Linked DNA regions of Homo sapiens: region 1 is linked to region 2. The links come from fine-mapping of genetic effects on gene expression. A gene starts in region 2. The other region holds a variant in brackets. All regions are shown on one strand. Distances are between the middles of the regions.

Region 1 (5,322 bases), 49 kb before region 2:
CTCTACTAAAAATACAAAAAAATTAGCCGGGCGTGGTGGCAGGCACATGTAGTCCCAGCTACTGGGGAGGCTGAGGCAGGAGAATGGCGTGAACCTGGGAGGTGGAGCTTTCAGTGAGCCGAGATCACACCACTGCACTCCAGCCTGGGCGACTGAGTGAGACTCTGTCTCAAAAAAAAAAAAAAAAGATGCAGATGCCAGCTTTTAAAATTGAGCTATGAATTAATTACTCTTGATTCAGATTTATGCTGTTCCTGGATTCCTTGGGATACTATAAACAAGTTTTGGGGTTTTTTGTTTTGTTTTGTGTTTTATTGAGACAGTCTTGCTGTGTCGCCCAGGCTGGAGTGCAGTGGTGTGATTTTGGCTCGCTGCCAATGTCAAAACAGCATTCTTCATTATAATAAAGGAAACCATACAATGGAATACTATGGCAGCTGTTAGGGATGGAGATCTTTATGGAATAATGTCAAAGATACATTGCATTGTATAAAATGGTAAACTGGTGCTTGCTTAAGCAGCACATGTACTAAAATTGGAACGATACAGAGAAGATTAGCATGGCCCCTATGCAAAGACGACACACAAATTCATGAAGCAGTCCATATTTTTAAGTATTTTTTTAAAAAAATCAAAAGTAAGAAATTTTTATTTATTTATTTATTTATTTTGAGATGGAGTCTCGCTTTGTCGCCCAGGCTGGAGTGCAGTGGCGTGATCTTGGCTCACTGCAACATCCGCCTCCCGGGTTCAAGCGATTTTCCTGCCTCAGCCTCCTGAATAGCTGGGATTACAGGCATGCGCCACCACGCCCGGCTAATTTTTGTATTTTTAGTAGAGATGGGGTTTCACCATGTTGGTCAGGCTGGTCTCGAACTCCTGACCTCGTGATCCACCCACCTCGACCTCCCAAAGTGCTGGGATTATAGGCGTGAGCCACCGCACCTGGCAACAAGAAAAATAAATTTTTTTTTTTTTTCAGACGGAGGCTCACACTGTCTCCCAGGCTGGAGTGCAGTGGCGCGATCTTGGCACACTGTAACCTCCACCTCCCAGGTTGTAGCAATTCTTCTGCCTCTGCCTCCCAAGTAGCTAGGATTACAGGCGCCTGCCACCACGCCCAGGTAATTTTTTGTATTTTTAGTAGAGATGGGGGTTTCACTATGTTGGCCAGGCTGGTCTCAAACTCCTGACCTTGTGATCCGCCCGCCTTGGCCTTCCAAAGTTCTGGGATTACAGGCGTGAGCCACTGCGCCTGGCCACGTTATATATTTTTGTAATTGAATGTTAATATATGATTTTAATTAGAAAAAATTAACTGCTTTAAAAACACCACTTCCTCATGTATTCGCTGTGGAGTGGGGTCTAGGCATCTGTATTTCTTCTTTTTTCTGTTTTCTTTTTTTTTTTTTTTTTTGAGACTGAGTCTCGCTCTGTTGCCAGGCTCTGGAGTGCAGTGGTACAATCTCAGCTCACTGCAACCTCTGATTCCCCGGTTCAAGTGATTCTCCTGCCTCAGCCTCCCAAGTAGCTAGGACTACATGCGTGTGCCACTATGCCCGGCCAATTTTTGTGTTTTTACTAGAGACAGGGTTTTGCCATGTTGGCCAGGAAGGTCTCGATCTCATGACCTAGTGATCTGCCTGCCTTGACCTCCCAAAGTGTTGGGGTTACAGGCATGAGCCACTGCGCCCAGCCTTTTTTTAAATTTTTTTTGAGATGGAGTCTCACTCTGTTGCCCAGGCTGGAGTGCAATGGCATGATCTTGGCTTACTGCAACCTCCGCCTCCCGGGTTCAAGCTATTCTCCTGCCTCAGCCTCCTGAGTAGCTGGGATTACAGGTGCACACCACCACGCCCAGCTAATTTTTGTATTTTTAGTAGAGACTGGGGTTTCACCATGTTGGCCAGGCCGATCTCAACTCCTGACCTCGTGATCCACCCACCTCGCCTCCCAAAGTGGTGGGATTACAGGCGTGAGCTATCACACCCAGGCAGGCATCTGTATTTCTAAACTCCATAGGTGATTCTGATTCTCATAGAGGTGAAGGTTCTTGACTCAGAGTTCGCTTTCCTCTGAATTCTTTTCTTTTTTTTTTTTTGAGATGGCGTCTTACTCTGTTGCCCAGGCTAGAGTGCAATGGTGCGATCTGGGCTCACTGCAACCTCTGCTTCCCAGGTTCAACTGATTCTCCTGCCTCAGCCTCCTGAGTAGCTGGGACTACAGGCACCCGCCACCACGCCCAGCTAATTTTTTGTATTTTTAGTAGAGATGGGGTTTCACCATGTTAGCCAGGATGGTCTTGATCTCCTGACCTTGTGATCTGCCCACCTCTGCCTCCCAAAGTGCTGGAATTACAGGCGTGAGCCACCGCGCCCGGCCATTTTTGTTTATTTATTGTTTTTTTCTTTTTCGTTTTCTTTTTTTTGAGACGAAGTCTCACTCTATAGCCCAGGCTGGAGTGCAGTGGTGTGATCTAGGCTCAAGGCAGCCTCCGCCTTCTGGGTTGAAGTCAAGTGATTCTCCTGCCTCAGGCTCCCAAGTAGCTGTGATTACAGATGTGCACGACCACGCCCAGCTAATTTTTGTATTTTTTAGTAGAGACAGGGTTTCACCATGTTGGCCAGGCTGGTCTCAAACTCCTGATCTCAGGTAATTTGCCTGCCTCAGCCTCCCAAAGTGCTGGGATTACAGGTGTGAGCCATCATGCCCAGCCCTGACCAACATTTTAAATGCCTCACCTTGGCATTTAGCTAGAAACCCTACTGGTTTAGTTTCTTAGGT[C/T]TGTAGGTGTTACCATGGCCTCACATTTATAATTTGGTTTTTCAAACTGGCAAGAAATCAGAATCGTGGAAGTTCCTAGCATAGCACTTCATAGTTCATGTTTATGGTGGCAGCCAAGAGCTGTGGCCATACTGGCTTCTTGAAGCCTTCTCGTACCCTTTCACAGTACAAACTATTTCAAACCAAAATGAAATGCCTAAGCTTGTGTCTGTTATGTTACTGCCTTCTGCAGTCAAGTAGCATTGTTGCTTCTTTACATTTTCTAGCTCCTCAGTGCAGGGGTGGAGGGTGGGTGAGGAAAATCACAACAGTACTCTTTCTCTTAAAATTGAGCTATGAATTAATTACTCTTGATTCAGATTTACACTGTTCCTGGATTCCTTGGGACACTGTAAACAAGTTTTGGGTTTTTTTTGTTTTGTTTTGTTTTTTATTGAGACAGAGTCTCGCTGTGTCACCCAGGCTGGAGTGCAGTGGCGTGATTTTGGCTCACTGCCAATGTCTGCCGCCTGAGTTCAAGCAATTCTCATGCCTTAATCTCTCGAGTAACTGGGACTACAGGTGCATGCCACCGTGACCAGCCTATTTTTTTTGTATTTTTAGTAGAGACGAGGTTTCGCCACGTTGGCCAGGTTTTTCTTGAACTCCTGACCTTAGGTGATTCTGCCCTCCTCAGCCTCCCAGAGTGCTGGGATTATAGGCGTGAGCCACCGCGCCTGGCCTGGTTTCTTAAAATTGACATTTTCTCAGTAGTTCTCTCTCTAGTCTGCTTGCTAGATGTTTAACTTAAAAAATTCTACACTATGTAGCACTTGTCAATTTAAAAGACTCAAAAGACTGCTGGGGCATTAAAAACCCAGCTTTGTTTCTGTCTGCAGGTTTAATAAACAATGAATACCTTCATATTCCAGAAACCAATTAAAAATCATTGTTTTTTTTTTTTTAACAGAGCCATACCTTTCAAGGTCTTTTCTGAGAAAAATCATTACCAGTCACTTTCTTATTTACCAGTGACAAATTGTAGGGAGGAGTCATCTTAAGAGACCTCTGTGTCCTTTCCTTATACAGGCTGGAGGGATGTTACCCTGTAGGTTTTTGGCTAGCTGCTAGTTTTATGTGTTCAACAGGGCATTTAGCCTAGCCTTGCTAGATGGCCTTACTGAAGTGCAGTGCTTCGTTTAATTGTGTGACCTTAGGTGATCTATTTCATCTAAATTTGGTCTATTTGTGAGGCAGAGATAACATCTGAATGGCTTATCTCACAGGATGGTTTTGAAGATTAAATGAGATAATGTGGTAGCACTTTGTAAACTGTAAAGTATAATGCAAATGTAAAGTATTATTTTTCTAGGAATCTTCAAATGTAGCAGACTCAGCAAATGTTTAGGTAAAAATTATGGCAATGCTAGATTTCTTTGTTTACAATATTGTGATATAAACCATACGAGTTGGCTAAGTAGGACAACTGAGGATCTCAAACTGAGGTTTGAGTACATACTGTAAAACCATACTCCCCTATTTGTAGTCCAGTCAACTCAGTTACTAGCTTCAACTAGTAACTCTTGAGAGTATTGGTTTTTTTTTGTTTTTTTTTGTGAGACGGAGTCTCGCTCTGTCGCCCAGGCTGGAGTGCAGTGGCGCGATCTCGGCTCACTGCAAGCTCCGTCTCCTGGGTTCACACCATTCTCCTGCCTCAGCCTCCCAAGTAGCTGGGACTACAGGTGCCCGCCATCACGCCCAGCTAATTTTTTGTACATTTAGTAGAGACGGGGTTTCACCATGTTAGCCAGGATGGTCTCGATCTCCTGACCTCATGATCCACCCACCTCAGCCTCCCAAAGTGCTGGGATTACAGGCGTGAGCCACCATGCCCGGCCGGGAGTATTGTAAATAATAAATGAGTAGGCAGGGCGCCATGGTTCATGCCTGTAATCCCAACACTTGGGGAGGCCAAAGCGAGAGAATTGTGTGAGGCCAGGAGTTTAACAGAAGCTTGGCGCCCGGCACAGTGGCTCACGCCTGTTATCCCAGCACTTTGGGAGGCTGAGGCGGGTGGATCACGAGGTCAGGAGTTGGAGACCAGGCTGAGCAACATGGCGACCTGTCTCTACTAAAAATACAAAAATTAGCTGGGTGTGGTGGCACGCACCTGTAATCCCAGCTACTCAGGAGGCTGAGGCAGGAGAATCGCTTGAACTCTGGAGGCGGAGGTTCAGTGAGCATGATGATTAGCACCACTGCACTCCAGCCTGGGTAACAGAGCAAGACTCCGTCTCAAAAAAAAAAAAAAAAAAAAAAAAAAAGGAAAGAAAGAGAAGCCTGAACAACATAGGAACACCTTGTCTCCACCAGAAAAAATTGAAAAAATTAGCCAGGTTTGGTGGTACAAGCCTGTAGTCCCAGCTACTTGGGAGGATGGCTTGAGCCCAGGAGGTCGAGGCTGCAGTGAGTTATGATCAGGCCACCGTACTGGGCAACAGAGCGACACCCTGTGTCTAAACAAAATTTTTTAAATAAATGAGTAAAGTGTTTGTAATA
Region 2 (5,371 bases):
GAATTTGAGGCTGCGGTGAACTATGATCACACCACTGTACTCCAGCCTGGGTGATAGAGCAAGACCCTGTCTCAAAACAAAAAAACAAACAAACAAAAAGTCACATTCATTGGTTCTTGCAGGGCTCAAAGTCTGGGCGGGGAGAAGGAACACTTATAAACAAACTAGTAAAGGCTGGGAATGGTGGTTCACGCCTGTATCCCAACACTTTGGGAGGCTGAGGTGGGAGGATCACTTGAGCCTAGGCGTTCAAGACCAGCCTGGGCAACATAGTGAGACCTTGATCATGATCACCCTCCTCCCCCTCCTCCTCCTCTTCCTTTCTTTTTCTCTTCTTCTTCTTCTTCTTTTTTTTTTTTTTGAAACAGATTCTCACTCCCATTGCCCAGGCTGGAGCACAGTGGCATGATCATGGCTCTGCAGCCTTGAACCCCCAGACTCGGGTGATTCTCCCACCTCAGCCTTCTGAGTAGCTGGGACTACAGGTCACACCACCCTACCTGGCTAATTTCTTTGTAGTTTTAGTAGAGACTAGATCTTACCATGTTGCCCAGGCTGGTCTGGAACTCCTGGGCTCAAGCCTTCTGCCCACCTCAGCCTCCCAAAGTGCTGGGATTACAGATGTGAGCCATTGAGCCCAGACTTGAGACCTTGTTTCTACAAAAATAAAAAAAATAAAAAAATAAAAAATTACCTGGGAGTGGTTGCATGCACCAGTGGTCCCAGCTACTCGGGAGACTGAGATGGGAGGATTGCCTGAGCCCAGGAGGTTGAGGCTGCAGTGAGCCCAGATCGAGTCACTGCACTCCAGCCTGGGCAACAGAGTGAGACCGTGTCTCAAACAAGCAATATTAGTAAAAATAATATTTAGAGATTGAAAAAAGTGCAATGAAAGAAAGAAATAGGAACTGAGAGAATGTGACAGGAGAGACCTATCAAGTCAGATATGGTGGCTGTCAGGAGGACCTTTTGGTAATTATATTTCAGCAGAGGCTTGAAGATAAGAAGACTTGATGCATTCAGTGAGGAAAACCCCATTCTGTAACCATCTAGGGTAAGTGACTGTGGTCCACAACATAAGAGGGCTTGAAGAGAAGAATAGGGAAGAAATTTTGAGTCAAAAATCTGGGTTCTATCCCCAGTCAACTAGCTGTATAGTCTTGAAAAGGTCACACAACCTCTGAGTCTCTCTTTGCTTAAAATGAGGGTCCATTATGCCTATCTTACAGGTGTGGGCTATATTAGATAATGGATGTGAAGGTGTCAAATGTAAAATACACGCACAGTGTTTTTACCGGTAAATGCATACGTAGCACTAACATATCACTGGGATGTGAATTTCCCACTTGCCAGTGTACCCTGAAATGAGAGCTTGTCTTAGTTAGACTTAGACCAAAGAAACCAAAACATGCTGCAAAGCCCGATGTCATTGGTGGAGCATTTGTGCTGCTGGGCGTCTGTCTTGCTTCTGATGGTGCCATATCTGTGACTTAGGAGAGCCTGGGGAGGTGTCTCCGGGCCCATGGTTGCCTTCTGCAAGTAGTGAGAGAGGAATGAGAAAGCCTCTTCACAGAGGGGTGTCCCCAGAACTGTCCTCATTTGCTCTTGCTTATAGACCCTGTCCCTGAGATCTAAAGGGTGACCTGACGTATTTGTCCTCATGGTACCTACCAGAGGTCAACAGACAAAAGTGGGCTTTGCTTGTGTTTGCTGCTGGCCCCAGGACAGCCTATAGACACTGGCGCACACCAAAGCCACAGGCCGGAGAGCAGGCAGGAAGCAGGACGAGGGCTGGTCTTGGGGCACCCTGAGGATGCAGAGTTCGGGGATGTAAGGGACTCGGGAAGGAGCCAAGGAGGAGAGAGGGAGAGGAGAAGTGGGGGAAGGAGAGGTGGGGTGAGGGCGGGAGGGGAGATGGGGGAGAACGAGCAAGAGGACGGGGCCCCGAGGAAAGGGAGGCCACGCGCGAGAGGGGGCCGCGGGGCGGCGCGGAGGCGGGGCGGCGGCGGCGGGCAGGCGGCGGGCGGCGCTGTCAGTGCGAGGCGGCGAGCGGAATGCAGCGGCCCGAGGCCTGGCCACGTCCGCACCCGGGGGAGGGGGCCGCGGCGGCCCAGGCCGGGGGCCCGGCGCCGCCTGCTCGAGCCGGGGAGCCCTCGGGGCTGCGGGTACGGAGCGGGCGGGCGCGGGGATCCCGGGCGGCGGGAGCTGGGCAGGGACAGAGCAGGGTTAGGGGGAGCAGCCAACTCAGAACTCGCGCGCCCGGCGGCTGGGAACTTTGTGTCACCCCTGACTGGCCCCAGGACCCGGGAGGAAAAGTTCGTCCCAGCGCCGACCGGAGAGGAGGCCTGTCCTGAGTCCGTCGGCGCGGGGCTGAAGTTCTGGGTCCGTTTGGAGTGGGGGTGGCGGGTGAGTTGCGATTCCGCGGGGAGGGTAAGGAGTGGCCTGTCCGTCCCAGACTCGGCTCCCATCACCGGTGGGTGATGGGCATGCTTCTGGAGTCTACCCGGGCCAGGGCCTGGGGGCGCGCTGATAGCGCAGGTCCAGCCCGGCCAGGGATCAGCTGGAAGAAGGAGGCTCGGCCCGCTGTCCCCCCCGGCCCAGGTTCTGTGATACACTCCGACTCGGGCTCTGGAGCAGTCAGTGCATGACAGAACTTGGGCCCGGAAGGACCTTCTGCACCCAACGGGCACAGCGCCCACTCGGGGCCTGCAGTGGAACATCTGCCTGGGAGTGGAGTGGGCACCTGGGTTGGCCCATGTGGCACAGGGCTGGGCAGAACCAGCTGTGGACCTTGAGGACTGGGGTTGCTGGGGCCTGAGGATGTATCCTAGGGCCAGCAGATCCCATAGACACAGGGTGTCCACCTCGAGTCAGGGGCCAAACGGAACTCTCCTCTCCGGTGTCAGTTGCAGGAACCTTCCCTCTACACCATCAAGGCTGTTTTCATCCTAGATAATGACGGGCGCCGGCTGCTGGCCAAGGTAACCTCTGACCCCACCCATGAGGGACACAGTTCCCACTCAGCTGACACTCCTGTCTCAGGAGAAACTCCACTGTGATCTCTGTGACTCAGGGCAGCTCAGCTTAGACCCCTCCAGAGGTCCTTCTCATCCTCCTGCCTTGTCAAGGTGCTGCTCCCTGAAATGAGGGGTCTCCTCTATTTCTACTCATGTTCCCTGAAATGTTTCCTTATCATCCTGCTACTGGCCAGTTGGACCTGGGCATGGGAAGGTTCTGCCTAATGGGTCAGTGGAGTGTTGAGCCTGGGACCCAGGAGTCTTAGTCCCCAAACCCCCACACAAGTTCTTTTGTTCTTTGGGGTTTGTCTCTAAACCTCCACTTTTGTTCTACAGCTTGGTAAACACTAACGATTTAGTCTAAGGAGTCTAAGGATTTAGAACCAGATGGGATTTTAGAAACTGTATAATCCAACTCTTTAATTTCGTAGATGAAGAAAATGAGGGGTAGAGAAGCTAAGTGAGTTGCCTGAGGTCACAAGTATTAATATCCTAACAGATCCAAACTCAAATTTTATTTATTTACTTATTTAATTTTTTCACTTCTCCCATTTCACAGGTTTCACAGGCAAACTCGGGTTTTTTGACATGAAGCTCAAGGTGGTTTTCACTGTACCCCCATTCAATTAGCTGTTATCTATCCTAGCAAACATGGCCTGAGCGAACCAAACTAAAATAATCCAAAAATAAATTTCTGCTGTCAACACAATTAATTGTAGGGGAGCTATAGCATCTGCATTAGCTATGAAATGCATTATAAGGCCAGGTGTGATGGCTCATGCCTGTAATCCCAGCACTTTGGGAGGCCAAGGCGGGCAGATCACTTGAGGTCAGGAGTTCGAAACCAGCCTGGACAACATGGTGAAACCCTGTCTCTACTAAAAATACAAAGAATTAGCCAGGCATGGTGGTGGGCGCCTGTAATCCCAGCTACTCGAGAGGCTGAGGCAGGAGAATTGCTTGAACCTGGGAGGCAGAGGTTGCAGTGAGCCGAGATCACACCATTGCACTCCAGCCTGGGCAACAAGAGCGAAACTCTGTCTCAAAAAAAAAAAAAAAAAGAAAAGAAAAAGAAAAGAAATGTGTTGTAAGGCCAGGCGCAGTGGCTGATGCCTGTAATCCCAGTACTTTGGGAGGCCGAGGCGGGTGGACTGCTTGAGCCCAGGAGTGCCAGACCAGCCTGGGCAACATGGCACACCCCATCTCTACAAAAAACAAAACAAAACAAAAACAAAAAACAAAAAAACGAAAATTAGCCGGGCGTGGTGGTGTGTGCCTGTAGTCCCACCTACTCGGGAGGCTGAAGTGGGAGGATTGCCTGAGCCCGAGAGGTTGAGGCTGCAGTGAGCCATGATCGAGCTACTGCACTCCAATCTGGGTTATAGAGTGAGACCCCATCCCAAAAAATAGATTTTCTGTTTGTTTATTTGGAACTGAAAGTTTTTTGTTTTTATGAAATTCAAATAAGCAGCGGCCACTAGGGAGATGGCTAATCTGCCTGCGGATTGAGTATTAAGTGGCAAAATCCACATCCAGAAAATTGAAAACTGAGCTGACCACACCTTGCCCCAGCAGATGGTCAGAGGTGGATCAGCAAGGCCAAAGGCTTTTCCTCCCTACAGATTAAGAAACTGAGTCAGAGAGAGAGGCTCACCATTCCCAAACAAAAAACATTAATTTAGTTATGGGATATGTGTGAGGAATTGTTTCTTAGATATTTAATCTTCACTATAACCCTGTCTGCAGTCAGACCGTCCTTAGTGGTCAAACCCAGCTTTGGCCTCACAACTGTGAGATGTTGGGGAAGTTACCTGACTTCTTTTTTTTTTGAGACGGAGTCTCCCTCTGCTGCCCACGCTGAAGTTCAGTGGCGCGATCTCAGCTCACTGCAACCTCCGCCTCCCGGGTTCAAGCGATTCTCCTGCCTCACCCTCCCAAGTAGCTGGGATTACAGGCACCCGCCACCATGCCCAGCTAATTTATTTTGTATAATTAGTAGAGATGGGGTTTCACCATGTTGGCAAAGCTGGTCTGGAACGCCTGACCTCAGGTGATCCACCCGCCTCGGCCTCCCAAAGTGCTGAGATTACAGGCATGAGCCACCATGCCAGGCCATTACCTGACTTCTTGATGCCTCGGTTTCCCCATCCGTGTAATGGGGATAATAAAGTAGCTGTTGTTATTATCATTATTATTGTTTAAGAAGGACTCCTGGTTTTGCCGTCTTTCCTGTAGAGACTCAGGGTGCTGTAGAATTAGTGTGCCCTCGTGACCATGCCAATCCTTAGCACCCTGCACATCTGCTGAATGTACAAGATCCTCCAAGAAACCAGGAGGGGACTCCAAAAGCAGGC

Evidence for each region. PIP is the estimated chance that this variant, and not a neighbour inherited with it, causes the effect. A credible set is the group of variants that fine-mapping cannot tell apart.
Region 1: its variant is the best candidate, but not a certain one, in a credible set for the expression of COPZ2 in blood mononuclear cells (TOPMed, PIP 0.71).

Annotation. Positions count from the first base shown.
Region 1 is chr17:48,083,968-48,089,289 of GRCh38, reverse strand. All of the region lies in intron 1 of CBX1 (chromobox 1), which reads left to right. It also overlaps the pseudogene RNU6-1201P. Among named protein-coding and RNA genes, the nearest start is that of CBX1, 15 kb to the left of the region's middle. The variant C/T (reference allele first, on the strand shown) is at 2,785.
Region 2 is chr17:48,034,461-48,039,831 of GRCh38, reverse strand. It overlaps COPZ2 (coat protein complex I subunit zeta 2), which reads left to right and starts at 2,035. Exons shown (of 9, transcript NM_016429.4): 1 at 2,035-2,165; 2 at 2,907-2,981. The coding sequence starts at 2,055. MIR152 (microRNA 152) reads left to right here and starts at 2,585; the gene lies at 2,585-2,671. RefSeq lists an enhancer at 869-918.